Linked DNA regions of Homo sapiens. The protein of the gene in region 2 interacts with the protein of the main gene of each other region in a pairwise test. Each region holds a gene or a part of one and is shown on either strand. Other genes may lie near its edges.

The links.
Region 1: the proteins of SMUG1 (region 2) and TIAL1 interact in binary tests that used the Homo sapiens proteins (3 or more experiments, as listed by UniProt).
Region 3: the proteins of SMUG1 (region 2) and LRRC41 interact in binary tests that used the Homo sapiens proteins (3 or more experiments, as listed by UniProt).
Region 4: the proteins of SMUG1 (region 2) and CRX interact in binary tests that used the Homo sapiens proteins (3 or more experiments, as listed by UniProt).
Region 5: the proteins of SMUG1 (region 2) and KCTD9 interact in binary tests that used the Homo sapiens proteins (3 or more experiments, as listed by UniProt).
Region 6: the proteins of SMUG1 (region 2) and LMO2 interact in binary tests that used the Homo sapiens proteins (3 or more experiments, as listed by UniProt).
Region 7: the proteins of SMUG1 (region 2) and POGZ interact in binary tests that used the Homo sapiens proteins (3 or more experiments, as listed by UniProt).

The regions. Positions count from the first base shown.
Region 1 is NC_000010.11:119,590,465-119,593,964, reverse strand, and holds part of TIAL1 (nucleolysin TIAR), read left to right. Parts: intron 1-445; exon of another isoform or gene 446-513; intron 514-1,847; exon of another isoform or gene 1,848-1,989; intron 1,990-3,500. UniProt on the Homo sapiens protein: RNA-binding protein involved in alternative pre-RNA splicing and in cytoplasmic stress granules formation. Shows a preference for uridine-rich RNAs.
Region 2 is NC_000012.12:54,179,866-54,182,925, reverse strand, and holds the end of SMUG1 (single-strand selective monofunctional uracil DNA glycosylase), read left to right. Parts: intron 1-302; coding exon 303-830; 3' UTR 831-1,278; coding exon of another isoform or gene 1,279-1,407; 3' UTR 1,408-2,560; downstream 2,561-3,060.
Region 3 is NC_000001.11:46,276,962-46,279,616, forward strand, and holds the end of LRRC41 (leucine-rich repeat-containing protein 41), read right to left. Parts: intron 2,654-2,655; coding exon 2,531-2,653; coding exon of another isoform or gene 2,481-2,530; exon of another isoform or gene 2,303-2,480; intron 2,297-2,302; coding exon 2,221-2,296; intron 2,124-2,220; coding exon 1,904-2,123; 3' UTR 1,322-1,903; coding exon of another isoform or gene 1,111-1,321; 3' UTR 1,020-1,110; coding exon of another isoform or gene 856-1,019; 3' UTR 501-855; downstream 1-500. Other genes in the region: RAD54L (DNA repair and recombination protein RAD54-like), read left to right, coding at 856-1,019, 1,111-1,321. UniProt on the Homo sapiens protein: Probable substrate recognition component of an ECS (Elongin BC-CUL2/5-SOCS-box protein) E3 ubiquitin ligase complex which mediates the ubiquitination and subsequent proteasomal degradation of target proteins.
Region 4 is NC_000019.10:47,828,437-47,831,936, forward strand, and holds part of CRX (cone-rod homeobox protein), read left to right. Parts: intron 1-3,500. UniProt on the Homo sapiens protein: Transcription factor that binds and transactivates the sequence 5'-TAATC[CA]-3' which is found upstream of several photoreceptor-specific genes, including the opsin genes.
Region 5 is NC_000008.11:25,437,934-25,441,433, reverse strand, and holds part of KCTD9 (BTB/POZ domain-containing protein KCTD9), read left to right. Parts: intron 1-760; coding exon 761-857; intron 858-1,641; exon of another isoform or gene 1,642-1,769; coding exon 1,770-1,828; intron 1,829-2,026; coding exon 2,027-2,155; intron 2,156-3,500. UniProt on the Homo sapiens protein: Substrate-specific adapter of a BCR (BTB-CUL3-RBX1) E3 ubiquitin-protein ligase complex, which mediates the ubiquitination of target proteins, leading to their degradation by the proteasome.
Region 6 is NC_000011.10:33,871,577-33,875,076, reverse strand, and holds part of LMO2 (rhombotin-2), read left to right. Parts: intron 1-3,500. UniProt on the Homo sapiens protein: Acts with TAL1/SCL to regulate red blood cell development. Also acts with LDB1 to maintain erythroid precursors in an immature state.
Region 7 is NC_000001.11:151,424,995-151,428,494, reverse strand, and holds part of POGZ (pogo transposable element with ZNF domain), read left to right. Parts: intron 1-81; coding exon 82-372; intron 373-453; coding exon 454-672; intron 673-3,433; coding exon 3,434-3,500. UniProt on the Homo sapiens protein: Plays a role in mitotic cell cycle progression and is involved in kinetochore assembly and mitotic sister chromatid cohesion.

The DNA.
Region 1 (3,500 bases), on a different chromosome or scaffold from region 2:
ATTAAATTAGTATTAAGTTCTTTTTTAAAAGTCCTGGTTGAACTAAGATTGTAGGCAGACATTACTGTCACATGTGGTGCAGTCTGTTGACTTTTATATATTTTTTAAAACCTTCAAATGTAAAATCTTGAGATAAAAGCAAATGTTTAACAATTGGGATTTTTATTAGAGTTTAATACAAATAATGCATAGTTTTTCTAAGTGTACGTTTTACATATTCTCAAAGGGTTCTATTAGATATAAGTAACATGATGAAAACTGAACATGATTTTAGACGTTGATATCTAGTAGGGTTTTTTGTTTATGGAGATCTTATATTTTACATTGTGAGCTATGGATTAGGTTTTTCAAGTGGCCAGTATGTTTTAAAAGAATGTGTTCTTAACAAAGCTTATCTTAAATTGTTTCCTTAAGATGCCTGTGTGTTACTAGTGAGGTTTTTTTCCTGCAGACACACACAAGCTAAGACATATGGTTCTATCTTCAGAAAACAATATGGTGTTTAGAGCCTAGGTAGGTCTTTAAATATTCATTACCTACAGTATTACTAATTTATTTGATGGTATTTAAAGTGGCAAGAATTGCTTTGATGTTGAGCCTAAATTTCTATTTGTCATATAGTTGCTTTAAAGGTCTGTTTTCTGATGTTCTTCATTCTCATTTGACATTTATTTTGGGGTATTATGCATTGAGTAACTTGTGATCTAAAAAAACAAACAAGATCATGCTGTGTAATACTGGTGTTGGAACTGGACTGTCTGACACCTGCCTTGTGGGACACACATTTCAGGCTTGGGTTGTGTGTATCTTTGTAGTGCAGTGATTTGATCCATGGTATATCTGAATCTACAATATGACACTAAATTGTAATAGTGTTTTATTGTAGCTTATTTTATTTTCTTCATCTATCGGATGCACCAAAATTGCTAGGAATTCGTGTAATACCATGTTACACAATCCCTTCCTTTAAGGCTATTCTTTCTTCCTGGAAATAAGCTAATGATTTAGAGTATAATCTGAACATCTAAGAACAAAGCAGAAGAAAATTCTATAAACTATTACAAAATTGACTGGCTATACCATGGATTTGGCTATACTGTGGCTATAATCAAGCCCCTCATTCAAATTCAACTTAATCATATTCTTTGTTTCTTTAAAGTAAGAGAGAGAGAGTGAGTGTGTGTGTGTGTGTGTGTGTGTGAGAATATCTCATATATATAGTTGGTCAATTTAGTTGTACCTCCTGCAGCTATCTTCCATCATGCCTCCTTCCTAAAATGAAATACTGTACCGACAAATTGAACAATTAATTAGAGATCTATTGAAGGATATTATTGCAAAATCTCTTCTTGTATAGGACTTGTCAAGAACAAAAGCAAAACTATTATGGAAATTTAGCTATAGTTTTTTGTGTGAAAGTGCTGATAATTTCAGCCTTGGTAGGGCTACTCTTTTCAGAGTGAGAGCACATTCAGTGTTGAAAAAGTGTCATTAGTCTTCTGAAAGGCATGATATTCTTAACTTAAAATTCTGCCCAGTCGGACACAGGAAGTAGTTTGGCAATGTGAATTTCTGCCTACTGTGAAACTGCTAAGTTTTTAGCCCCAAATTGGATTTTAACCCTGATATTAGAGATAAAGGTGTCATTTTCAGTTTTTAATGCTTCAGTTCCTACAGTTCCTGTTCTTAGAAGACAAAATAGACTCTAAGGTATGCCTCTTCTGAATTTTTTCGTTGAGTTAAAAATCATTTTGGAATTTCCTAAGTGTTTACTCTTTGAATTGACCTCTCAATACAAAAATTAGAGCCATTTATCTTTTTTCTGTTATTTTGTGTATGTTCTTTAGGTAGCAATTATATATTTAAAGACTTGGATCTTTAGCTTGACTATTTCATAACCAGAGCAGAAAGAAAGTGAAGTGTAGAAGCTATAATTTGGAACGAATAAAGATGTCATTTCAATGAACTACCAAGAGATGATCTTACTAGGTCAGGCATTGAACTTTGTCTTAAATATTTTTGTTAGTATTTACTTTGGGACAGATTATTTTATGATACTGTAAAAGTACTTAAAATAGAATAGTACAGTATTTTAAAAGCTATACAATACGTCTCTCAAGTGTTATGATGCACGAAGGCAAATGTAAATGAAGAGGCAATCTGAAATTTGGGTACAAGAACTCAGTAAAAGAAAAGGCAGTCTGAAATTTGGGTAAAGTTTAGGTGAAATTATATAGTGAATCATGGCCTTTTAATCCTGGTAAATTAAGATATTGTATGTGTTGTTATGGAAGGCCTTTCATGTTAGTTTTTGAAATTTAGTTTGCTGCTTAACATTTAACTTTTAGTGGAGATAATTTGAAAAATAGGAAACCTTAATACTGGATTTTTAAATAAATATTTCATGACATTCTAAACTTAGATATTAACGTTTTCATCTTTGCTTTCAGTGCTAGAAATGTAAATTAATATATCTAAATATGCCTCTAGAAATTCTTCAAGATCTGTAACTGGCGGGAAATAGGTTGACTTAGAATAAAGATTTTTTTTTTTTTTTCAGATGGAGTTTCGCTCTTGTTGCCCAGGCTGGAGTGCCATGGCGCGATCTCAGCCCACTGCAACCTCCACCTCCCGGGTTCAAGTGATTCTCCTGCCTCAGCCTCCCCCAAGTAGCTGGGATTACAGGTGCCCGCCACCATGCCTGGCTAATTTTTTGTGTTTTTAGTAGAGACGGGGTTTCACCATGTTGGCCAGGCTGGTCTTGAACTCCTGACCTCAAGTGATCCACCTGCCTCGGCTTCCCAGAGTGTTAGGATTACAGGTGTGAGCCACCACACCTGGTGGAATAAAGATCTTATTAAGCAGTGACGGCTTTTTTTGTGACTATTAGATATAGAAGGTAACTAATTCCAATACAGTTTTTCCTGAAGAAATTGATGTTTAAACAGTAATGGAAATTTAAAACTATTTAAATCATTTAAAATGTGTTATATTAAAATGATAATTCTATTTTAATTTTGTTATTAGCTAGCTTCAATATGTGAAAACCAGTTTTATCCATCCTTCTTTTCTCTTAGAAGTGAGCTAACTAGCCCTTTAGGCAAGGAGCATAATGTTTAGAAGCTCAAGATCACTTGTTCGTTTCTTTCTTTCTTTCTTTCTTTCTTTCTTTCTTTCTTTCTTTCTTTCTTTCTTTCTTTCTCTCTTTCTCTCTGTCTCTCTCTCTTTCTCTCTTTCTTTTTTATTTATTTTTTTGAGATGGAGTCTCACTCTGTCGCCCAGGTTGGAGTGCAATGGTGCAATCTCGGCTCACTGCAACCTCTGCCTCCCAGGTTCAAGCGATTCTCCTGCCTCGGCCTCCCGAGTAGCTGGGATTATAGGTGCGCGCCACCATGCCCGGCTAATTTTTGTATTTTTTGTGGAGACAGGGTTTCACCATGTTGGTCAGGCTGGTCTCAAACTCCTGACCTCATGATCCGCCTGCCATAGCCTCCCAAAGT
Region 2 (3,060 bases):
CTAACCATCAAACCCTGTGTAGGGCTAGATATCTCAATGTAGTCCCTGTACTTAGTCCCAAAGGCTAGTTGGGCTAGAGGGAAACAAATTCTTCTGGACCACGGTTCACAATGAAGAACTGGAAAAAGACAGACAGGCTCAAACCATAGGGCCAAGAATCCTTGTCTCAGGCCTTTGGGTGAAGGTAGGGGTAGGGGGTGCAGGCTGGATCCTCATGTAAGGTATAAAGAAGTCAGTTGGTCCAGAGCCCGGGCCTCAGGTCTCCAGTTTGAAGCCTTTCATGTCTCTCTCCTTCCTCACAGGTGCCCTTTGGGGAAGTAAGCATGGTCCGGGACTGGTTGGGCATTGTGGGGCCTGTGCTGACCCCTCCCCAAGAGCATCCTAAACGACCAGTGCTGGGACTGGAGTGCCCACAGTCAGAAGTGAGTGGTGCCCGATTCTGGGGCTTTTTCCGGAACCTCTGTGGACAGCCTGAGGTCTTCTTCCATCACTGTTTTGTCCACAATCTATGCCCTCTGCTTTTCCTGGCTCCCAGCGGGCGCAACCTTACTCCTGCTGAGCTGCCTGCCAAGCAGCGAGAACAGCTTCTTGGGATCTGTGATGCAGCCCTCTGCCGGCAGGTGCAGCTGCTGGGGGTGCGGCTGGTGGTGGGAGTTGGGCGACTGGCAGAGCAGCGGGCACGACGGGCTCTGGCAGGCCTGATGCCAGAGGTCCAGGTGGAAGGGCTCCTGCATCCCTCTCCCCGTAACCCACAGGCCAACAAGGGCTGGGAGGCAGTGGCCAAGGAAAGATTGAATGAGCTGGGGCTGCTGCCACTGCTGTTGAAATGAGTGCCCTTGGGGCCTTGCATGGGACACATTCAAGACCTCGAAGTCATTCTTGGCCAAGCAGATGACAACACATCTCCTGGACTGGAGCAAAAGGTCCTTCTGTGCACCCTGGTCGCTGGGAAACGTATTCTTTGATCTGTTGAACTGTCTTCCAACCTGCCATGGCAGTTTTGACACTACTCCTGTTTGCCCTCCTGATTCCTGCTTTCTTTACCTTTTAACATTGCCCCTTTCAGGGGACCCCACTTTGTAGGGAATCTGCAGAAGGTGTGCTTTTGCACTTGCAGACTGCTCTACCTCAGTGTTTCCTTGGGAGACTTTATTCAGCTGAGAGTGCCCTAGACAGTAACTTCTAAGGTCACGTTTACTATTTCAGAGGAAATATCTTGCCAGGATACCTACCCATCCTTATAGAACAGTTACCTTTAGCTGACCCCTTTCCTCACAGGGACCAAGACAAAGCATGGGACATGAAATTAAGAGTGAACTTCTTATGGGAGGCTGCAGCTGGATCAGAGGAAAAATCCAGTGTGACAGAGTGCAAGTCAGAAGACCTGGCTTTTCATCCCAGCTTTGAAACTTGGAACTTTTTGATTGACAAATTAATAAACCTCTCTATGCCTCAGGCTCCTCATCTGTAAAACAGGGATGCCTACCTTATGGGGTTGGTGTGAGGATTAACTGAGATCACACTTGAAAGTGCCTTGCATGGGCTTGGCATGTGGGTGCTCATTACATAGTCTTCTTGTTTTCTTGCCTCTGGGTTGAGGATTCACAGCACTGCACTACAAGGGTAGCCCCTCTCCATTCTGGATACCTTGCTAGGAGAGAGTCTGGGCTTCCACCTGCGGCCAGGGTGAAGGGAAAATTCTTGCCATGTCAGAGATGGATCAATGACTATGAAAAAACTAGCCTGTGATTTTTTTTCACTCTAAGCATTAAGAGCTCCTAAAGCCTTTTGTCTTGTTACTTTTTTCCCCCTCTTGCATGCTAGAGGTGGAAGGTAGTCATTTAGATTTCCCCCCTCTTCCCTCTTCATTGTTGGCCAGGGGTTCTCTTGGGCAGCTGGGGGAAGGATGTAGTAGATCTCTCTTTTTTTTTTTTTTTTGAGATGGAGTCTCATGCTGTTGCCCAGGCTGGAGTGCAGTGGCATGGTCTCAGTTCACTGCAACATCTGCTTTCCCGGTTCAAGTGATTCTCCTGCCTCAGCCTCCTGTATAGCTGGAATTACAGGCATGTGCCACCACGCCTGGCTAATTTTTGTATTTTTATTAAAGACAGTGTTTCACCATGTTGGCCAGGCTGGTCTCAAACTCCTGACTTCAAGTAATCCACCTGTCTTGGCCTCCCAAAGTGCTGCTGCCTGGCTGGATGTAGCAGATCTCCAATTGCCTTACCAAACCTGCAGGGTCTCTGTTAAGTGTCTGTTAGGGGTCTTATATGATACTCTGGACACCGTGAGAAACAGGTGATGGGGCAGATGGGAACCTGGTATCCAACTCATTTTTTATGTCTGCTGAATGGTTGACTGGGTGCCCCTTTGGTAAGGGCTGGGAAAGTGAACCAAGTTGGGAGCAGAGCAGGTCTTGAGACCACCTTAATGAGGAACACATGGTCTACTTCCTATCTCCTGGGACACAGGTCATTTCCAGCTTCCAGAATTAGTAAGATTTTTCATATAAATCCTCCCCTACTTCATTGTATAATAAAGAATTTGGCCTTTGTCTTCAGTTCCTGAGAAGGAGACTCTAAATCCTTGGAATTTCCCAAGTAATAGGAGTATCTTTGTTTTTCGTGGCAGGTCCCTGAAACTACACCTGAATTTATGTTGAGATTTGACCTTAGGCTGCACCTAATTTTATATTGAATTTGATCTCAGACCACACCTGAGTTTGCTGTAAGATTTGACTGAGGATGGAGGCTGACCATGCCAGAATGACCAACCATATAGTTACAGGGCTGGGACTTTGAGCTGGATGATACCAGCTTGATCCCCAGGGAGGGGAGAGGGGCTAGAGATTGAGTTCAGCCACATGCCGATGATTTTAACCAATTATATCTATGGTAAAACTCTAGATATAAAAACTTCTGACACAGGTTTTGGTCAGCTTCCTGGCTGGTGAACACATGGATGTGCTGAGGGATGTGCATTGGTATCCTGTTTCTATGAGCAGAGGGCACACATCTGTGCCTGGGACACTCCTGGACCCTACCATATATTTGTCTTCAT
Region 3 (2,655 bases), on a different chromosome or scaffold from region 2:
AATTTTTGTATTTTTAGTAGAGACAGGGTTTTGCCATGTTGGTCAGGCTGGTCTCGAACTCCTGACTTTGTGATCTGCCTGCCTCGGCCTCCAAAATTGCAGGGATTACAGGCGTGAGCCACCGTGCCTGTCCCCAAGGTTCTTTAATGTGGCCTCTGCTGACTTCCCAGTCTCAGCTCTTACTATACTCCCACCAACCTCCAGTTAGCCTGAACTACTCACAGTCCTCCAATAGGCCAGTAGTATTCCTTTGTTCCTATGCTGGGAATACCTTTCTTTGTGTCTTTTCTTACAAACCATCTACTCATTTTCAAGATTGAGCTCAAGGATAGAGTTTCAAGTTTTCAATACTGTTCTACTCTACCATCCTTATGGACTCGCAGTTACCCTGTATAGATTTCTATCATTGTATCAACTGTTTAAATGTTTGTCTAGGAGCTAAAGGATAGGGGATATATATGATTCTTTTTTGTATGCTAATGTCAGCACAGGGTCTGGAATAGAATAGATACCTAAATGATATTTATTGAATGAGTTAGAGTTGGGCTTGGTGCAGAAATCTGAAGCTGCAGCAGACAAACCTCAGTTCACCCTGACGGGATTTAGCCAGGCCCTGGGACCCTTCATTAGTATAGAAAGTAGCCTGGGTGGGCAGACTATTCATGTCATGTTCTCAGGAGACAGACTGGGAAAATGGACCTCAGCTGAGTAGAGATAATGTTCTGGGACTCATACTTTTTATTCATCTCCTCTTCTCGGGTAGCTGTAGTTTCAACCCTTTGGTTTTCCTGCTCCCTTTTTATGAGGATGGCTAAGCGCTGTATCTTTTGACATTCCCCACCTCCTCTTCCCCAGGCAGGGACCATTGAGGAGAAGATCTTCCAGCGTCAGAGCCACAAGAAGGCACTGAGCAGCTGTGTGGTGGATGAGGAGCAGGATGTAGAGCGCCACTTCTCTCTGGGCGAGTTGAAGGAGCTGTTTATCCTGGATGAAGCTAGCCTCAGTGACACACATGACAGGTGGGGAAGTGCCCTAACCATTATCTCTAAGCTACCCACACAGTAGGGAGATGGGATCTGTAGTGACTTCAGCTGTGCCTTCTGTCCCTAGGTTGCACTGCCGACGTTGTGTCAACAGCCGTCAGATCCGGCCACCCCCTGATGGTTCTGACTGCACTTCAGACCTGGCAGGGTGGAACCACTGCACTGATAAGTGGGGGCTCCGGGATGAGGTACTCCAGGCTGCCTGGGATGCTGCCTCCACTGCCATCACCTTCGTCTTCCACCAGCGTTCTCATGAGGAGCAGCGGGGCCTCCGCTGATAACCAGCTGGTCTGGGTGTAGCTCTTAGAGGAAGGAGATAGGGAAAAGGGGCTCCTTGCTCCACAGGGCCCTGTTGAATTTTGTTCTCTGGGAGAAAATCATCAAGAAGGGCTGCATGATGTTTGCCCAAAATTTATTTTATAAGAAAAACTTTTTTGGTTAAAAAAAAGAATAAAGGTATGAAAGGGTTTGAGGCCTGAGAGCAGTGTGGTAAGCCCAGCAGGGAAGAAGCCCCCTATACTTCTCTAAAGCCTGGGTGCCTGCTTGAGGAGGGAAGGCAGGAACCCAGGGGCAGGGGAGGGGATCTCTTCAGCAATTATGATGACCACTGTAACCTCCTGGCCCAGGGTTCCCAGGATACTGAGTAAGGGGCCCAAAGACTATAAACCCAGCTGTGAGAATGCCTGTTTGCTGGGCCTCATCAAGGCCTCCAGGACCTCAGTGCAAGGGAAGAAGGAAAAAAGAGAAAAAAGGTGACAGAAAGAGAAAGATAGAACTGGTGGTTGGGGTTCTGGGCAGCCCATGCTTCAGCCCCTGCAAGCTGATGGTACCGAGCATGAGACTGTGAGGTACGGGCCCCATCACATGGTGCTAACATAATCTGCGAAGGCCTGGGATGAGTCCCATGAGTCGCTAACCACATGGCAGGTAGCCCGGAGCCGCCGGATGGCTTCCCTGGCTGTGACTGCATCCTGGTCCAGCCAGTTTTGGAAGAGGCGCAGGTGACCAAAGGCTCCACGGCCCCAGCGCTCCAGCCGCTTGGCGAACTCCAGAAGCCCATCTGGCTTGATGCAGTTGGAACTGGTAGGGTGAGATGGATTAGATATCCAGGAAGCAGTGAATTCCTGGTCTATATCTCTGTAGCCCCATCCCTTGTCTTGCCCCTCCCCTCATGTACCTGATGTCCAGCTGACAGAGAGAGGAGGATGAATCCTCTGAGAAAACATCTGCCAAGGCCAGCAGGCCAGCATTCCCTGGAGAGAAGGGGAGAACGCCTATCACCTCCACCCAAGAACAGGGGACAAGGGTATCCCAACCCAACTATGGCTGGCAGAACCAGCCCTGCTGGTTCCTGAAGCCCCAGCACAGAAATATCTGTATTCCAACTCCCACGTTCCCAGTGGAGAGGTCTTTGCCTTTATCCAGTGAGTTTTTAGGTCAAAGGCCTAGCTCCTTTCCCCTCTCCCTCCCCAGGGTCTGGCCCCCACCCAGGCGGTTCCCTGGCAGCCGGAGGCCCTTCAGTGTGGAGTTGCCCTTCATAGCAGCAACCATCTCAGGCAGAAATTGGGCTGGGCGCTTCTCAAACAGACGGCAGAAGGAGAAGGTAATCTCT
Region 4 (3,500 bases), on a different chromosome or scaffold from region 2:
TTCTTTTTCTTATGTTTCAAATATTTATTGGGGGTGCTGGGGACATGGCAGGAACCGAGATATTACCAGTCCCTGAACTCAGGTAACTGATAGAATTTGAGGGAGAGAGATAGATAAACAAACATATAAATATGTCGTTTAATACAAGCTGTGTCTTGAAGAAAAGGAGGTAGGGAGCGTGTGTGTGTGTGTGTAAAATCCAGTTTAGGGGCGTAGGTTGCTTTCTCTGGGGAAAGTAGCTGAGCTGAGACGTGGAGGAGAAGGGGTTAGCTGGTGAGAGGGGCTTTGGGGTGGGGGAGAGGCGTTCCTAGCCCAGGAAACGGCTTATGCAAATAGCTGTGGAGGGTGAGAGGTTTTCTGAGTCCATCCTAATGAGGGCAATGAGGAACCCTCAGAGGGTTTTCATGTTCTGTTTGCTTTTTTGAAGATTTTATTGTTGTTTTTGCTTTTGACAAGAACACACACACACACACACACACACACACACACACACACACACACACACAATTAAAAAGTAATCCAAACTATAGAGACAAGATATGGCTTTAGCATTCCTTCCCAGAGGCAGTCACTGGTGCCAGTAGCTTGCTTCCTTCCTGGGAATTTTCTACGCATATACAAGTGTATATTCTACACATGAGTAAAATCAATGCCTCATTTTGTTTATTAATTCATAATTATAATACTTATTATTTTTGAGATGGAGTCTCACTCTGCCTCCCAGGCTGGAGTGCACTGGCATAATCTCGGCTCACTGCAACCTCCACCTCCCAGGTTCCAGAGGGTCTCCTGCCTCCGCTTCCCAAGTAGCTGGGATTACAGGCATGCACCACCATGCCTGGCTAATTTTTGTATTTTTATTTTATTGTATTTTTATTTTTAAATTTACTTTATTATTATGACTCTTTTTTTGAGATGGAGTTTCGCTCTTGTTGCCCAGGCTGGAGTGCAATGGCGTGATCTCGGCTCACTGCAACCTCTGCCTCCCGGGTTCAAGTGATTCTCCTGCCTCAGCCTCTGGAGTAGCTGGGATTACAGGCGCCCACCACCACGCCTGCCTAATTTTGTATTTTTAGTAGAGACAGGGTTTTGCCATGTTGGCCAGGCTGGTCTTGAACTCTTGACCTCAGGTGATCCATCTGCCTCGGCCTCCCAAAGTGCTGGCATTACAGGCGTGAGCAACTGCACCTGGCCTATTTATTGTTATTATTGAGACAAGGTCTTCCTCTATTGCCTAGGCTGGTGTGCGGTGGCATGCTCATAGCTCACTGCAGTCTCCAAATCCTGGGCTCCAGTGATCCTCCTGCCTCAGCCTCCTGAGTAGCTGAGACTACAGGTGCGGACCACCATGCCTGACCAATTTTTGTATTTTTTTTTTTGTGGAGACAGCGTTTTGCCATGTTACCCAGGCTGGTCTCGAACTCCTGGGCTCAAGCAATCTGCCCACCTTGACCTCCCAAAGTGCTGAGATTATAGGTGTGAGACACAGCACCTGGCCATCTGCATTGTTTTAAAAATCACAAATGGTTGCGAGGTATACATACTGCCCAGCACCATACTTGTTTCCTTTGAATATATAAATATTATAATTTTATAATATTTATAATATATAATAACACAAATAATAATAAATATATATGGTTTGGTCATATACAATATATAAAATAACATTCACAAACACTTATTGTCAAAGTGCAATTAAATGGGAAAAAAAGAAAAACATTTGGCCAGGTGTGGTGGCTCATGTCTGTAGTCCTAGCACTTTGGGAGGCTGAGGTGGGAAGATCACTTGAGCCCAGGAGTTGGAGGCTGCAGTGAGCTATGGCAACGCCGCTGCACTCCGGCCTGGATGACAGAGGGAGACCTTGTCTCTTAAAAAACCCCAAAAAACAAATCTGATTCTCTGACGCATATATAATAAGCACAGGTCAAAGATTTATTTAAGTCATGAATGAAGGAACCAGCTGTTTCAAAGGAGAATTTGGGCCGGGTGCAGTGGCTCACGCCTGTAATCCCAGCACTTTGGGAGGCTGAGGTGGGTGGATCACGAGGTCAAGAGATTGAGACCATCCTGGCCAACATGGTGAAACCCCGACTCTACTAAAAATACAAAAATTAGCTGGGCGTGGTGGCGGGTGCCTGAGGTCAGGAGTTCGAGACCAGCTTGGCTAACAATGGTGAAACCTTGTCTTTACTAAGAATACAAAAAATTAGCTGGGTGTGGTGGCTCATGCCTGTAATCCCAGCTACTTGGGAAGCTGAGGCAGGAGAATAACTTGAACCCAGGAGGTGGAGTTTGCAGCAAGCCGAGATTGTGCCACTGCACTCCAGCCTGGGCGACAGAACAAGACTCCATTAAAAAAAAAAAAAAGGAGAATTTGATGAACAGAAGTTGATAGGTTTAGTCAGGAAAGACGGGCTGGAGAAAATTTGCCAGGTTAGATACAAAACTGGTTAAAGACCTACAGGACAATACAACTGTAACCTTTGAGGTTACCTTTTCTACCAGAGAGAAATCATTTGCAACCAAACTTCCTGGGGTTACCATTTACCTTGTCGAAGTCTAGACTCTAATCAATAATGAATAACAGACCGGGTGTAGTGGCTGACGCCTGTAATCCCAGCACTTTGGGAAGCCGAGGCAGGCGGATCACGAGGTCAGGAGTTCGAGACCAGCCTGGCCAACATGGTGAAACCCCGTCTCTACTAAAAATACAAAAATTAGCCGGGCATGGTGGCGCATGCCTGTAATCCCAGCTCCTCAGGAGGCTGAGGCAGGAGAATCGCTTGAACCCAGGAGGCAGAAGTTGCAGTGAGCCGAGATCGCGCCACTGCACTTTAGCCTGGGCGACAGAGCAAGACTCTGTCTCAAAAAAAAAAAAAAAAAAAAAGAATAGTAAATCAAATACAGGTACAGTCCCTTAGAATAGGGTCCCCAACCCCCGGTTTGTAGTCTGTTAGGCATGGGGTTGCACAGCTGGTGAGCAAGCATTACTGCCTGAGCCCCGCCTCCTGTCAGATCAGCGGTGGCTCTAGACTCTCACAGGAACGTGAACCCTATTGTGAACTGCACGTGCGAGAGATCTAGGTTGTACACTCCTTATGAAAATCTAAGGCACTGCCCACTCCCATCCATGGAAAAATTATCTTCTACGAAACCAGTTTTTGGTGCCAAAAAGGTTGAGGACTGCTGCCTTGGAATATGAAGCAAACTTTGGGTGGGTCTGTTAGACAAGACTCCCAGATGACTTGGAAATGGCATGCTGTCAGCTTTTTTTGTCTTATTGCCGAGCCTAGAACTTTTTTTAATTTTTATTTTTTTTGAGATGAAGTCTTGCTCTTGTCTCCCAGGCTGGAGTGCAGTGGCACGATCTGGGCTCACTGCAACCTCTGCCTCCCGGGCTCAAGCGATTCTCCTGCCTCAGCCTCCAGAGTAGCTGGGATTACAGGCGCCTGCCACCACGCCCGGATAATTTTTGTATTTTAGTTGAGACGTTTCA
Region 5 (3,500 bases), on a different chromosome or scaffold from region 2:
TATCTATAAGGACAATTATTATTTTAACACTTTTGTATTAACATTTGATCAGTCTTTTTGTATTGCTCATTTTTATATGAAATTAGTTTTTCTTAACTTGAAAAGAGGGCTGACAGGACAGTTTTTCCAATTTCATGGCTCTAGAGTTCCCTTTTCTGTTGTTTTTGTGAAGTGTTTAAAATACACAGAACTCATTTTCTGATATATTCTGGTCTATTAAACCTCTTAACTTTCATCTGCAGTCCTTTTTTTTTTTTGTCTCTGTTGTCTTTGTTGCATTCAACTTGGATTATTTTCCCAGCATCTTATCAGTATGGGGCTTTGTCCATGGAAGGGAGTTTTGGCCATTTGGTTTTAAGAGTTTATTTTCAGCCCTATAAGATCTTACTGCAAACTACTTGCATCACCCACTTTTGGGATGATCTCAATCTGTTGTTTTCAGCTAGACTTATTAAGCAATGAAGTCAGTATCTATGGATGGCTTTAACATTCATGGGTTCATCATATACCCTGTTGCTTCTCTCTGCTTTTTCTTTCACAGGCGCTGAAAGCATGCTGCTCTTATAGCTGTTGGTATTGGTGGGACTACCTTATCACCTAGTGTTGTTTTAGATGCAGTCTGTGGGTTTGGGTATTGCTGTCCTAGTAGCTCTGGTATGCTTTTATTATGTGTGTATTCAGTTTAAAAAATTATGCCATTACCATCTTCCCAGAATCCCCAATCTTAATATTTGTATTATTTTCTACATGTCATCTCTAGATCCTCAGACAGATTCTAAGCCTCCTGAGGGATTGTTAGGATTCCACACAGACTGGCTGACATTAAATGTTGGAGGGCGGTACTTTACAACTACACGGTAGGTGTGTGTGTATGTGTGTTAGAAAGAGAATGCAAAAGAAGCACTGTGTACCCTTTGTTCTTCAATTTGCTGATTTCCTTAAAAGATACTCAAATGCTGCTTAAATATACTATGTGATCTGAAACCATTTTTTATAACTTTTTTTGAAGAAAAAAACATGGTTCACTCCAGAGAAAGCATAAAAGGCATCACTTCAGTGTTTTAGAACATGCTTTTGGCTGGGCGCGGTGGCTCACGCCTGTAATCCCAGCACTTTGGGAGGCCGAGGCGGGCGGATCACGAGGTCAGGAGATCGAGACCATCCCGGCTAAAATGGTGAAACCCCGTCTCTACTAAAAATACAAAAAATTAGCCGGGCGTAGTGGCGGGCGCCTGTAGTCCCAGCTACTTGGGAGGCTGAGGCAGGAGAATGGCGTGAACCCGGGAGGCGGAGCTTGCAGTGAGCCGAGATCCTGCCACTGCACTCCAGCCTGGGTGACAGAGTGAGACTCCTTCTCAAAAAAAAAAAAAAAAACATGCTTTTTAGATATTGAGTAATAAACACACAATATAAGTAAAAATTAACACTACTGAAATTTGTGGAGACTACAACTGCTTTTATTAAAGGGCAGAAAAATGTAAGTTTGGAAGATCAAGAATATTATTATGTAATAATTTGCTTACAGGATAGACAGACAAGTATTTAAAGCAAAGGAAACTAAAACAATGTTTAAATCAAAGGAAGTACCCTATTAGAAGGGATCTGATAAATGGCAACTTACTGCACGTTTTTGTTTCCCAGCGTTACTCCTACCAGGTTGTAGCATGCATCTTTTTGAGAGAGCAGCTGGGATCGAGTATACTCTTGACTTAAATATGTTTGTTTATAAAGACAAATGGAGAAATCAATTTTTTTCCCTGAATTCTTAGGAGCACTTTAGTGAATAAAGAACCTGACAGTATGCTGGCCCACATGTTTAAGGACAAAGGTGAGTGTAACACGTTGTTTTCACATTTCATCTTACCTGTTTTATATCTGTGCTGACTTTATAACTCCTGACCTTCTGTACTTACTAATTATGTCAGTTTTTAAGAGTAAAAACTTATATTTAGCAATTTTTTCCTCATACATTTCTGACTTTATTTTTTGTTTATGGGGGACTTTCTTTATTATAATGGTGACACAGGTGTCTGGGGAAATAAGCAAGATCATAGAGGAGCTTTCTTAATTGACCGAAGTCCTGAGTACTTCGAACCCATTTTGAACTACTTGCGTCATGGACAGCTCATTGTAAATGATGGCATTAATTTATTGGGTGAGTTTATTTAGACTTTCAATATAATTATGTAACTACTCACATTTTTGTAAGTTTAAGATTTTAACTTTGTTTCACTCAGTAACAGTATATTTCCATAAAGTAAAAGTATATATTTTTTCTATTTTTTAAACTAGATGTTTTCACATGTATATGAGTGATATAGGTGTAGAAATAGATTTAGGCACGGGCAGGTGGTCCTTCAGGTAGATAGTCTTTGTACATATAGCTAAATATGTAAGCCATACGCATCAACTTTATATTCTAAATTGATTTACGTTCTATCACAAGTGACTTTAAAGGATTTTGTTGTTTCCTTTTTTAAAAATTGAATTAAGAATGTAACTTGGCTCCAAGTTCTGGATATTCCCCACATTATGTGAGAACTAGAGTAGTCAAGAGGGCAAATCATGCCTTGCAATCATAATTCTCAATTAGAGTCTTGATTCTACAACTTGCTAACTTAGGGAGACTAACTTGGGGAAATTTCTCTGAGTCATATTGGAAAAATGAGTGTTAAAAGCACTCTTGACCCTATCTACATCACAAGATTTTTGTGAAGATTCACGGAGGTGATGTAGACAAAGCCCTTATAAAACACTGGTTGCATATTTGGAAGCTAATAGGCCTCCAAGTGACTGAAGTTGATGTGATGTTAGTACTTGAGGAATGGTAGGCAGTTGGCAATCTTGAGGTCACATGCCTGTCAGCTTCAGCAGATCATTGCCATGTGCAAAGTGGTCAGACGTAGAGTGCCAGAACCTTGGTTTTTAAAGAAAACCTGGGTATCTAAAATTTTATGTGACATGTTTTTGTTTTGAAAACATTACATGCTGAACACATCAGAATCAGCCTGAGGACTGCTGGCTTACAGTTTCTGTAGTGAAATACAAAACACCCATTAACTTTTAGTGTTGCTATAACAAACTTTATATTCCCTTGAACATGTACCTATTGCAAAAAAAAAAAAAAAAGATATTATTTGACCCTTTTAGCTAGTTCTATAACTTTATAACTAAATTCTTGTTGCTTTCTATTTCTCCCATTTTAATTTTTCTTCAAATTATTGATAGCATTTTGTATCCCACTTGCCTAGAAAATGTCAGAAATATATTTATCCATGCTGTGTCACACATCTGCAAACCAAGCTATTACCAAGATTTGCTAGTTTTTTCTTTTTCATGTTTCTCAACCATTTATTTGTTCAAGTGTTCAAAAAGCAGAGCTCTCTGCTGGATTCATTTTATAAAGCATTGTTTTCAGTTAGTACAGTTTCCATCCAAACTCTTTACATTGCCTACAGGTTGCCCCAAGTAATTATATGCTTTAAAACAATCTACAGTAA
Region 6 (3,500 bases), on a different chromosome or scaffold from region 2:
TGCTGCAGTGGGAGCAGGGGTGGGTGACACCCACTAGGGAGGTGCTTTCAAACTCCTACTGCTCCAAGGAGCAAGCTAGAAAATCCCACTTCTCAGGCCCCTTCCACTAGGACACACTATGAGCTTAACACTGCTAAGAACTCACTGAGGAATGGTGACATTTGGGGGCGGCTCCTTCAGTGCTTTGTTTGGCTTCTTTTTTAAATTATAAATGGTGGTTTGAAAGTTGTTGGAGGGGAAAATCAGATGAAATCAGGGATGTGGCTGAAGCAGTCAGTGTAGCAGTGTAGCAGAGAAGCAGAGAAGCTGTCAGCAGCCTACCCAGGCCCCGAAATGGGCACAGCCCTGCATTTCTGGCCTGAGGCTTGCCGAGGTCTTAGGTGAACTTCAGCTCTTTCTACAGCACCCCAGTCTCAGCACTCTTTGGTGGATGTCCTGATTGGCTGGGAGATTGTTGCTTCCTGATACAGTGGTGATTACTTCTGAAAGATGGGGTAATACCAACAGCTATCGTTTCTGACCATTTACTGTGCAGCATCACTGTGCAAAGTATTTTTATACATATCCTATTGACTCCTCTCAAAACTCCTGTGAGGCAAGCAGGCACCCCAGTGGCCTCATCCTAGTTCTGGCCCTGGTGACATTATGATTGCCTCCATCCTCCATTTGATAGGTACAGAAACTGAGGTTCAGAGAAGTGAAGTAAATTCCCCCAGATCACGCAGCTAGCAAACAGCTGAGCTTCTATGCTCATCCTAAGGCTCGGTTGAAATGGATTTTTTAAAAGATGTATTTTGGGCTCTTTACTATATAGAAAACCGAATCTGTTTATCACTAAGGTTACTAATAGGCCTTACATCTGTGAAAACTTATCTGTCAGCTGGCCCTGAAATGTTCTGAAATGAGTCTGAGCACAGGATGCCTGTGACAACCGAATAGTTTAAAAAAATTCTCCATGGGAGCCGAAACCCTATTAAGACAGGTCTTTATTTTTGTTCCTGAATGCCACATTTAGAAACAAAATGTCATATTTTTGTATATGAATGTCACAAGTGACAAAGCATATGTTGCAACTTGGCTTCTAATGGTTGAAAAAAAAAGAGAGGTAAATTATCATAATGTTGGGATCTTCTCAATTATATTTGCATTTTCATTTCTATCAGAAGTCCATTTTAGCAAAGGAATGTAACCTTAGTCACTTGAAACTGCTGTTCCCTTAGAAAACAATTGTAAATGTAATAAGCAAAAAGGATAGAAAATGCCCACAGGGGAAAAAAATGATCCATCTGGGGTCAGAGCCATCGTGTAGATTGATTCATTCTTCTTCTAGCATTCTTATTCAGGAAGGAAAACTTGAACATTTTCTAGATTTTAGGATATTTAAGATTTGCAAGGAATTGGGGGAAAGGGAAAAGGAATGAAATTTCAGTCCCACTGGCAGGGATCAAATAGAGATTTTCTCAACTTTTAAAAGAACCGTTTTACATGTCCCAATCACCTCATAGTTCCTGAGTCTCTCTTCTGCATAAGGCATGTACTAGTTGTTAAGGGAGGATACAATAAGGTCATGATTGCTTTAAAATTATTCATAATAAAAACACATTTTGAGACTTGATTCTAAATGTTAAACTTAAATTTGAGCAATTTAATTGCCCGTTGAATAGGAATGAAATCCCACCGGTAGGCAGTTATTTCTTACAACCACTGTGTGTGAAATTGAAATCTTAAGATACCATTTCAAATATTCACCTTCTCTAAGGAAGTTCTCCCCAAAGAGTTGTGAAAGATAAGAAACTGACCCAAAGTCATATGCAGTAATCTCTTTTTCTTTACACACTCAGGTCAAAGTAGAAGCATATTATTAAAAAGAAACGTTATGCCCTGAATTTGGCTGTTCTGAGGTTACCTCTTGGAACCCAAGGATATATTTAATTTAAAAACTGACTTGAGCCCCATGCAAAACTGTGACAAGGAAAGTAATAATTTATCAGATTAAATAAAAACAAGCAGATGTGGCCAGGCGCGGTGGCTCATGCCTGCAATCCCAGCACTGTGGGAGGCTGAGGCAGATGGACCGCCTGAGGTCAGGAGTTTCAGACCAGCCTGGCCAACATGGTGAAACCCCGTCTCTACTAAAAATACAAAAAATTAGCTAGGCGTGGTGGCGAGCGCCTGTAATCCCAGCTACTCGGGAGGCTGAGGCAGGGAAAATCGCTTGAACCCAGGAGGCAGAGGTTGCAGTGAGCTGAGATCGCACCATTGCACTCCAGCCTGGGTATCAGAGCGAGACTCCATCTCAAAAAACAAACAAACAAACAAATAACACCCAAGCAGATGCAAACAGGTCATTTAGTCACCACGATAATGAACGTTAAAATGGAAAACACTTACATGTTTTATTTAGGAGAAGAAGGGGGTGAGGTGAAGGAATCCTGTTTCCTGCTTTTAAAAAACAGGAAATAGTTTCCAAATTTGGGTGGGCAATTCTTATTTTAAACCCCCATTTCACCTTTAAATTTAATTTCAAGCTCTTTTAAAATTATCTTAATGATGCCCTTTACTATAACATAGCAGCTGCCATTTATGAGTGCTTACTATATACCAGTTGCTTTTCATGCAAGCAACTTCATATCTGTTATTACCCCCATGCCATTACAAATCTATGTGCCACCCTTTTGTGCACTAACTCATATAATCCCCACAATAACTTAGGCAATAGGTTCTGTCGTCTCCATTTTACAGATGAGGATACTGGGAGTTTATTTGTTTGTTTGTTTATTTATTTTGAGACGGAGTCTCACTCTGTCACCCAGGCTGGAGTGCAATGGCGCGATCTCTGCTCACTGCAACCTCTGCCTCCTGGGTTCAAGTGATTCTCCTGCCTCAGCCTCCCGAGTAGCTGGGGTTACAGGCATGTGCCACCACACCTGGCTAATTTTTGTATTTTTAGTAGAGATGGGGTTTCACCATGTTGGGCAGGCTGGTCATGAACTCCTGACCTCAAGTGATCCACCCGCCTCGGCCTCTCAAAGTGCTGGGATCGCCTCGGCCTCTCAAAGTGCTGGGATTACAGGTGTGGGCCACCGAGCCCGGCCAGGATACTGGGAGTTTAAATTCCTGCTGTGAGCCCAGGTTGACACAGCTGGTCAAGGATGGGTTAGAATCCAGGTAGTCTGACTCCAGAGCTACTACCGCATACTGCCTCCTCAGATTAAATAATTTTCCTAGGACATGCTAACTGATAAGTAAGAGTCTAAATCAAACCCAGGCAGTTGGGTTCCAAAATTCCAGCGTTTAACCACCACATTGACTGGTTATAAGTAGGTAAACTGTTCATCACAACCTATATATTTATTTTCATTTCTGTTAGAAATGAAAGTAGTGTGGTAGGTTACATATTTATCACATAGTTTAGGCTTGCCTAAATTCTAAGTATTTTCTTTTTTAAATTAAAAACAAGGGTCTATCGGAAAAAAAAAAACCCAACTTTTTTTTTTTTT
Region 7 (3,500 bases), on a different chromosome or scaffold from region 2:
AATCTTTCCAGTAAAGGCAGGGAGAATGTGTTATAGGTGAGCTCACTGACCAAGATCTGGTACTTTGTCTCTCTTTTAAAGCCCCAGGTACCCAGTTTGTTAAGCCGACAGTTGGAGTTCCACAAGTGTTCTCCCAGATGACCCCTGTGAGGCCAGGCTCCACAATGCCTGTGAGGCCCACCACCAACACCTTCACCACCGTCATCCCGGCCACTCTTACCATTCGAAGCACCGTCCCACAGTCCCAGTCCCAGCAGACCAAGTCCACTCCCAGCACTTCTACCACTCCCACTGCCACACAGCCAACCTCACTGGGGCAACTAGCTGTTCAGTCTCCAGGCCAGTCAAACCAGACCACGAATCCCAAGCTAGGTAAGGCTTCGGAAGAGGAGATGGCAGAGCCAGGTTGGGATGGTGGGTGGAGAACAGATGATTATCACTTGGTCACCGTAGCTCCCTCCTTCCCCTCTCCACCTGCAGTGAGCATTGCCAGCTTTGTCACTGTGAAGCGACCTGGTGTTACAGGCGAAAATAGCAATGAAGTGGCCAAATTGGTGAATACCCTTAACACCATCCCTTCCCTGGGCCAGAGTCCTGGGCCAGTGGTGGTGTCCAACAACAGCTCTGCTCATGGCTCTCAAAGAACCAGCGGACCTGAGTCTTCAATGAAAGGTACAATAACCTGAAAGACTCTGAGCAGCCAGTCATTCAAAAACATTAATAAAGTGTTTGTTGTATCAGAGCTTTATACTCAGAAATAGAAAAATAAAATAAAATACAGCTGCTGTAGTTTGTTCTTACAGAAACTTTAGTAAGGAGAAAGCCACTTACAAAAAGTGTAACTGAATCAGCTCCAAGAAATTATGTGTGTAATTGTGCTTTGGAGATTAGTGAAATTGATTGATTAAAGATGGGTGAGATAATGAAAGATAACTTCATGGAAGAGATGGATTTCTGAGCAAGGTTTTAAAGTTAGGATTTGGTAGAGAGATCTTCAGGTTGAGAATGATGAGCATGAGGGTTTTCAGTGGTCTAGAGCAGGGGTCGGCAAATGTTTTCTGTAAAGGGCCTAGTAGTAAAGTTGTAGGCTTTGTGCACAATATATAGCCTCTGTTGCAGCTATTAACTGTGCTGTTGTGGTGGGGAAGCAGCCACAGATACATAAACGAATGAGCATGGCTGTGCTCCACTAAAAACTATTTATGGACTCTGAAATTTAAGTTTCATAAAATTTTCATGTGTCGAAAAGTTTTATTCTTTTATTTCAACCATTTAAAAATAAAAACCGCAAGGTATAGTGGCTCACACCTCATCCCAGCATTATGGGAGGCCAAGACGGGAGGATCACTTGAGCCTAGGAGTTTGAGACCAGCCTGGGCAACATGGTGAGATCCCATCTCTACAAAAAAAAAAAAAAAAAAGATTAGCCAGGCGTGGTGGTGTATGTCTGCAGTCCTCGCTACTCAGAAGTCTGAGGTGAGAGGATGGCTTGGGCTTGAACCCAGAAGGTTGAGCCTGCAGTGAGCCATGAGCATGCCACTGCAACAGAACGACACCCTGTCTCAAAAAAAGTAAAAACCTTTAAAACATGGTGTTGGGAAAACTAGATATCCATGTCCAAAAGAAGTTGGATCTTACCTTACAATAAATACAAAAATTAACTCAAAATGGATCAAAGACCTAAATGAACTAAAACTATAAGACTCTTAGAAAAATTATAGGACAAAAAGCTTCATGATACTGGATTTGACAGTGATTACTATTTCTTGGATATGACACCAAAAGCATACGCAAGAAAAGAAAAAATGAGTAAATTAAATTATATCAAAATTTAAAACTTTTGTGCAGGACGTTGTCAACACAGTGAAAAGGGAAGCCACAGAATGGGAGAAAATATTTGCAAATTATGTATCTAATAAGGGGTTAATATCCAGAATATATAAAGAATTTGTGCAGTTCAACAACAAAAAAACTCCCAAACAACCTTTTTAAAAAATAGACAAAGGACTCGCTGGTCGTGGTGGTTCATGCCTGTAATCCCAGCACTTTGAGAGGCCAAGGCAGGTGGATCACGAGGTCAGGAGTCCAAGACCAGCCTGACCAATAATGGTGAAACCCCGTCTATACTAAAAATACAAAAATTAGCCAGGCGTGGTGGTGTGTGCCTGTATTCCCAGCTGCTCGGGAGGCTGAGACACAAGAATTGCTTGAACCTGGAAGGCAGAGGTTGTGGTGAGTCGAGATTGTGCCACTGCACTCCAGTCTGGGCAACAGAGAAAGACCCCATCTCAAAAAAAAAAAAAAAAGTAGGAAAGTAGGCAAAGGACTGAATAGACCTTTCTCCAAAGAAAGTTATTGCCAATAAGCTCATGAAAAGGTGCTCAGTGTTATTAATCATTATGGAAATGCAAATCAAAACCACAATGAGGTACCGTCTCACTCCCATTAGGATGGCTACTATCAAAGAACCATAAAATAACAAATATTGTTGAGGATGTGGAGAAAGCAGAACCCTTACGCACTGTTGGTGGAAATGTAAAATTATGCAGCCACTTTGGAAACAGTATGGTGGTTCCTCAAAAAGTTAAAAATGATAGAATTGTTGTATGCTCCAGGAATTCCATTCTATACCCAAAAGAATTGAAAGCAGGGACTAGAACAGGTATTTGTACACCTATGTTCATTGCAACATTATTCACAATAGCTGAAAGGTGAAAGCAACACAGAGGTCCATCAACTGATAAAGGGATAAATAAAATGTGGTATTCACATACAATGGTATATTGTTCAGGCTTAAGAAAGGAAATTCTGCTACAACATGTGCTGCAACATGGTTGAACCTTGAGGACATTATGTTAAAGTGAAATAGGCTAGTCACAAAAGGACAAGTACCATATGATTCCACTTACTTGAGGTACCTAGAGTAGTCAAATTCATAGAGACAAAGTTGAATTGTGGTTGCCGGGGTGGAGGCGAGGGGAGAATGGTGAGGAGGTTTTTATTGGATATAGCTTCAGTTCTGCAAGATTAAAAAAAACAAAAACCTTAACAAAAAAATCACATACAAATTATTCTTAGCTTATGGGCCAAACAGAAACTGGTAGCTGGGCTGGATTTGATCTGTGTGCTGTGGTTTGCTGACCCCTGGCCTAGAGTTAGAACAGTAAAAGGAAGCCTCAAACATAGTGATCTTGAGCCCAGGGAGGTCAAGGCTGCAGTGAGCTGTGGTCGTGCCACTGCACTCCAGCCTGGGCAACAGACTGAGAGACCGTGTCTCAAAAAAAACAAAAACAAACAAAAACCATAGTGATCTCTCATGCTTGCTTACCCTTTTATATACTTCTCAGGGAGTGTTTGACTTTTTCCCAAAAGGTCAGTAATCTTTTTCCAGTGTCATTGTATTAATCTTATCAATTCTTCTCACTTCTTTCAGTGACCTCTTCCATCCCAGTATTTGACCTCCAGGATGGTGGACGGAAAATATGTCCACGATGTAATGC